Linked DNA regions of Homo sapiens: region 1 is linked to region 2. A link means that fine-mapping ties the variant in region 2 to the plasma level of a protein whose gene starts in the linked region. Region 2 holds a variant in brackets. A gene starts in the other region. All regions are shown on their forward strands. Region 1 holds the start of IL17C (interleukin 17C). Region 2 overlaps IL17RE (interleukin 17 receptor E).

The links. PIP is the chance, under the fine-mapping model, that this variant and not a neighbour inherited with it causes the effect. Protein levels are from antibody-based Olink assays in UK Biobank. Linkage for the fine-mapping came from a reference panel and not from the study's own genotypes, which makes the PIPs less certain.
Region 1: IL17C starts here. The variant in region 2 is fine-mapped to the plasma level of the IL17C protein (UK Biobank, PIP 0.96).

What each region holds. Positions count from the first base shown.
Region 1 is chr16:88,636,907-88,639,792 of GRCh38, forward strand. IL17C (interleukin 17C) reads left to right here and starts at 1,666. Exons shown (of 3, transcript NM_013278.4): 1 at 1,666-1,741; 2 at 2,075-2,403. The coding sequence starts at 1,736. It overlaps LOC124903755 (a long non-coding RNA gene), which reads left to right. Exons shown (of 2, transcript XR_007065181.1): 2 at 1-528.
Region 2 is chr3:9,908,517-9,911,371 of GRCh38, forward strand. IL17RE (interleukin 17 receptor E) reads left to right here. Exons shown (of 16, transcript NM_153480.2): 8 at 701-767; 9 at 2,349-2,524; 10 at 2,611-2,658; 11 at 2,739-2,784. Among named protein-coding and RNA genes, the nearest start is that of IL17RE, 7.1 kb to the left of the region's middle. The variant G/A (reference allele first, on the strand shown) is at 2,427.

The DNA.
Region 1 (2,886 bases), not on the chromosome of region 2:
GTGCTGCCTCAGCCCCACCCGACTTGGGAGCTTTTGTGTTCAGAGAGACTGAGGTTTTCAGCTTAGAGGACACCTCCGTGGAACACATCTGCACCGCGGCAGGGGAGGAAAGGCTGGGGGCACACAAGCACCCTCCCTCCCGCCCTCACCCCGAAGCTGAGGGGACCAGGGCGGACAGATTCCCCCACCTCTGATGTGGCCAGGGGCCCTGGGGACTCCAGGACAACCCTCCTCAGGATGACGTCAAACCCCCGGCATTCAAACCTTCCCAAGTTCTGGCTGCAGCTGTCCCTTTCCGGGGAAACAAAGGCACCTCCAGCGCCCCCACCCCCAGCCAGCCTCACCGATCAAGGAGGCCAAAGGCAGCTCCCGGCCCCGCTTACATAAAGCTTCCTGTGTGTGCTGGTCACACCTCACACCTCACGCCTCACGCCTCATGCCTCATTCACACCTCACACCTCACTCCTCACACCTCCAACTCAGACTTTTTAGCTTGAACTTTTTTCTCAATAAAACCACAGAAGCCCAGGCCGGGTGCAGTGACTCATGCCTGTGATCCCAGCACTTTGCGAGGCCGAGGTGGGCAGATCACGAGGTCAGGAGATCGAGACCATCCTGGCTAACATGGTGAAACCCCGTCTCTACTAAAAATACAAAAAAATTAGCCAGGTGTGGTGGCGGGCGCCTGTAGTCCCAGCTACCCGGCAGGCTGAGGCAGGAGAATGGCGTGAACCCAGGAAGCTGAGCTTGTAGTGAGCCGAGATCGCACCACTGTACTCCCCGCCTGGGCGACAGAGTCAGACTCCGCCTCAAAAAAACAACAAAAAAAAAAACAACACAGAAACCCAACAGAGACCTGAAGACGTGCCTGCCTCCCCCATCTCCGGGACCTCTCCCACCTGGGTGAAGGGGGCACGTGAGCCTCACCTGATCTTGACCATCTCAGCTAAAACACTGAACCACCCTTGGCACCCACCAGCAGCAGACGGAGAAGAACTGTATAGGGTGCAAAAGCGCCCCGCCACCATCAGGTCCAGATGAAAACCTACAAGTTGAATCAGCAAGGTGCTGACGGATACGCAAGCAGAAACCCTCTTATAGGAGGTTCAAGGCTGGGCGCAGTGGCTCACTCCTGTAATCCCAGCACTTTGGGAGGCCAAGGCGAGCAGATCACTTGAGGTCAGGAGCCTCAGACCAGCCTGGCCGATATGGCAAAACCCTGTCTGTACTAAAAATACAAAAATTAGCCAGGCATGGTGGGGGGTGCCTGTAATCCCAGCTACTCGGAAGCCTGAGGCAGGAGAATCGCTTGAACCTGGGATGTGGAGGTTGCAGTGAGCTGGGACAGCACCATTTCCCTCCAGCTCGGGTGACAGCAAGACCCTGTCTCAAAAAAAAAAAAAAAGTTTGAGAATGTCAGACAAGGCAGCACCCTGTGTAGGTGCTCAGGTTGGGCGGAGTCTCTCTCGGGGGAGGGGGGTAACAGGACAGCGCCTCCCGGGGCCTCCTTGCATGTCTGTGTCCTGATGCACAGCAGGCGGGGGCTGCGGGGACCAGAGAAGGAAGAAGCGCCCCAGCTGGGCACTTCCCGAGGAGGAAGTGGTGCCGGAATTTCCCCCAGGTGTGGCCTCAGGTATAAGAGCGGCTGCTGCCAGGTGCATGGCCAGGTGCACCTGTGGGATTGCCGCCAGGTGTGCAGGCCGCTCCAAGCCCAGCCTGCCCCGCTGCCGCCACCATGACGGTGAGCCTCTCCACATGCCGCTCGGATGGATGCTGCTTGGATGTGCAGCCTGGCATGGAAGGGCTGGGGTTCTCTGAGCCTGGGAGGAGGGTGTTGGGATGGGGTCTGGGAAACCCCTCAGTCTGGGGGTAGGGGAGGCAGCTGCAGATCCTCGGAGCGCTGGCATGCTGGGTGTCTTGGGCTGAAGGGCTAGCCTCTCTGGGCTTCAGTTTCCCCATCTATAGAGGGAGGGCTGTACTCCATCTTTCCGCTGGGAACAAGGAAAGCTGAGGTGGAAGTGAGGTGCCCCCTGCCCTGGGCACCTCCTAACCACCCACCTGCCTGTTTCACCAGCTCCTCCCCGGCCTCCTGTTTCTGACCTGGCTGCACACATGCCTGGCCCACCATGACCCCTCCCTCAGGGGGCACCCCCACAGTCACGGTACCCCACACTGCTACTCGGCTGAGGAACTGCCCCTCGGCCAGGCCCCCCCACACCTGCTGGCTCGAGGTGCCAAGTGGGGGCAGGCTTTGCCTGTAGCCCTGGTGTCCAGCCTGGAGGCAGCAAGCCACAGGGGGAGGCACGAGAGGCCCTCAGCTACGACCCAGTGCCCGGTGCTGCGGCCGGAGGAGGTGTTGGAGGCAGACACCCACCAGCGCTCCATCTCACCCTGGAGATACCGGTGAGGACCTGGGGATTCCGCTGTGGCGTGGGGCTGCCCCTCCCCTGGCGGGGCCCTGACTGCCCGGAGAGCTCTCTGGGCCTTGGTGGTTCTCACCTGTCAAGTGGGCGTGGCCACCTGAGCTCCCTCCCTCCGGCCCTCCTGACCTGGACGGCTGAGCTGCTGCTTGCGGCTGGCCGTGCCCTGCCTCCCACTGTCCTAGGTGGCCAGGGTCCCCTGGGGAAATTCTGGGCCCGTCACCTGAGCTCCTGCAGAAGTGGGGCTGGGTGATGAAGTGGAAGGGAGGCTCCTAGAGGCCTCCGGACCCTGCTCTGTGCTCTTGGAGGGCCCTGGGGAGACGTGGATTACCACCACATGTGAGCCCGACTGCACCCCAAGCCCGTGTGGCTCAGCCCTCGCTGCCTCAGGTCCTATCCTGAGTACACGGAGAGGGGCCCTGAGGGGAGAGGGGCCTCCAGGAGGACAGGGTAGGGCCAGAGACTC
Region 2 (2,855 bases):
ATTCCAACCTCAGCCTCATCCAAACCCATCTTTCCCTGGCCCAGACCTGGCCTCAGCCCACAGAGCCAGAATAGGCAGCTGTCATTGCTGTGTGTTCTGAGGAGTCGAGGAAGGAGTGTGTGCATGGCCACTGCAGGATCCATATGCCCCCAAAAGTCTTGTCCCCTCTAGGCCTCTGTGGCAGTCCTCCTTTTCTCTTTACAAGTCTAAGGAACATAGCAGAAAGTTTTCTTTGGACTAGACAGAAAAGGCAAGGGAAATTGTCACCTGGAAGACCTAAGGGAGGATGATGGCAGAGACCTAGAGCCACGAGCAATTGCCAGGGTGGACAGCAGGTGGGCATGTGGGCATTCCAGAGTCAGGAGCCAACACAGAGCACTGGGTGCCTTGGGGATGGCTGAGAGTGGAGGCCAGAGAAGACCAAAGCTGAGGAATGCGACCTCAGGATTTCCTTCTTTCTGGGGATAGTTCTCTTTAGGAGGAAGAGGAGTTAGCCCCTCACTTGCTTATCCCTCTCCTATGCTCTGGAGTTCCTCTCCACCCTTGCCCCCACCCCACATTGCCCCCTCCTGCTCGGTCAGTGCCTGGCCAGCTCAGGCAGCTTGCGTCACAGTAAGGTAAAGCCAGAATGAGTTTTAGGTCTGAGTGAGATTGGAAAAGCCATTCCTCTGACCCTCCCCACCTGCTCCCGTCTCTCCAGGCATCCTACCTGCAAGAGGACACTGTGAGGCGCAAAAAATGTCCCTTCCAGAGCTGGCCAGAAGCCTGTGAGTGCTGTTGACACGCACCCTTGTGCACACACATCCCCTTTCTCTTTCTGTCTCCTACACACACATGTACACACACACACACACACACCCCGCACTTCACACATGTGCTGGGGGAAGTCCCCAGAAGGCATGCAGGTACTTTCCCTGGAGTCAGTGGGGGGAAAAGGGCTGCCAAGTCTACCAGTCCGCTTGCCAATAGATCAGAGATCGCTGAGCACCGCAGTACTGTGAGAAGTTTAGAAATATGAGGCCTAGGAGATGGTGTCCTAAGAGGATGGGCCAGAAGACCCAGTTCCCATCACAGCTCTGTCAATTGTTCTTCTCTGAGCCTCACTTTCCTCATCTGTAAAATCTCAATACCTGCTCTGCCTTCAAAGTGTTTGTGAAGCCTGAGTTAAATATTACATATGAAAGTGGCTGGTGATGTCTGAAGTGCTGTATGCATGTTGTTGTTCTCAAGGAGAGGCAGGACACTCAGACAAAAGTGACTCACATAAAGCAGCCTACAGAACTTACAGGGCAGGGTTATGGTTAAGGACTAGGCTGTAGGGCAAGAAATTGGGAAAGGGAGAAGCCCAAGAAGGGCCATTATAAGCAGAGAAGGCCTCTTAGAGGAAGTGGCACCTGAGCTGGGGTCAGAAAAAGGGCAAGACTTAGAAAGGAGAGATAGGAGGGAAAGACATTCCTGGTTCTGAGAGGACCCTAAGCAGATTTCGAGTTTGGGGAGAAGCAAGGACCTGGCCAGAATGGAGGCCTGGGAAGGAGAGGAGAGAGACCCCTGGATAGAAAGATAATGAGGTTGGGCGCAATGGCTCACGCCTGTAATTCCAGCACTTTGGGAGGCTGAAGTAGGCAGATCACCTGAGGTCAGGAGTTTGAAACCAGCCTGGCCAACATGGTGAAACCCTGTCTGTACTAAAAATACAAAAAGTTAGCCGGGCATGGTGATGCGCGCCTGTAGTCCCAGCTACTCAGGGGATCAAGACAGGAGAATCACTTGAGCTCGGGAGGCAGAGGTTGCAGTGAGCCGAAATCACACCACTGCACTCCAGCCTGGGTGACAGAGTGCAACTCCGTCTCAAAAAAAAAAACAAAAAACAGAAAGGTAATGAAAGGGGGCTGGGCATGGTGGCTCACACTTGTAATCCCAGCACTTTGGGAGGCCAAGGTGGGTGGGTCACAAGGTCAGGAGTCCACGAGGTCAGGAGACCAGCCTGGCCAATATGGTGAAAACCCATCTCTACTAAAAATACAAAAATTAGCTGGGCTTGGTGGCACACACCTGTAATCCCAGCTACTGAGGCATGAGAATCGCTTGAACCCAGGACACAGAGGTTGCAGTGAGCTGAGATTGCACCACTGCACTCCAGACTGGGCGACAGAGTGAGATTCTATCTCAAAAAAGAAAAGGAAAAGAAAGATAATGAAAGGGATGCTCATTGATTTAGTACCTGTTCTGGCCAGGAATAGTGCTGGTTACTTTTACAAACATTATCTCCAGCTGCCCCCAGGATGTGGGTGGCAAGGTGGGGCTGAAGCAGGGCTGACCCTCACCCACTGACCCTGCCACCTGCCCAGATGGCTCGGACTTCTGGAAGTCAGTGCACTTCACTGACTACAGCCAGCACACTCAGATGGTCATGGCCCTGACACTCC[G/A]CTGCCCACTGAAGCTGGAAGCTGCCCTCTGCCAGAGGCACGACTGGCATACCCTTTGCAAAGACCTCCCGAATGCCACAGCTCGAGAGTCAGATGGGGTGAGGACAGGTTCCCCCAGGACCAGGGTGGGCAGGGCTGGGGCCCAGGAATTTTCTCCCTGATGAACTCTCCTCTCCTCCCACAGTGGTATGTTTTGGAGAAGGTGGACCTGCACCCCCAGCTCTGCTTCAAGGTACAACCATGGGTAAGAAAAGATGTGGTGTAGTGGGTATTGCCTGGAGCTTGCTAATCTGCCATTCCTGTATTTCTCAGTTCTCTTTTGGAAACAGCAGCCATGTTGAATGCCCCCACCAGACTGGTGAGTCAATAAGTGACCTCTGCTGGGACCCCCTGCCCCATTTCATCCTCACCCAACTGTAACCAAGCTAA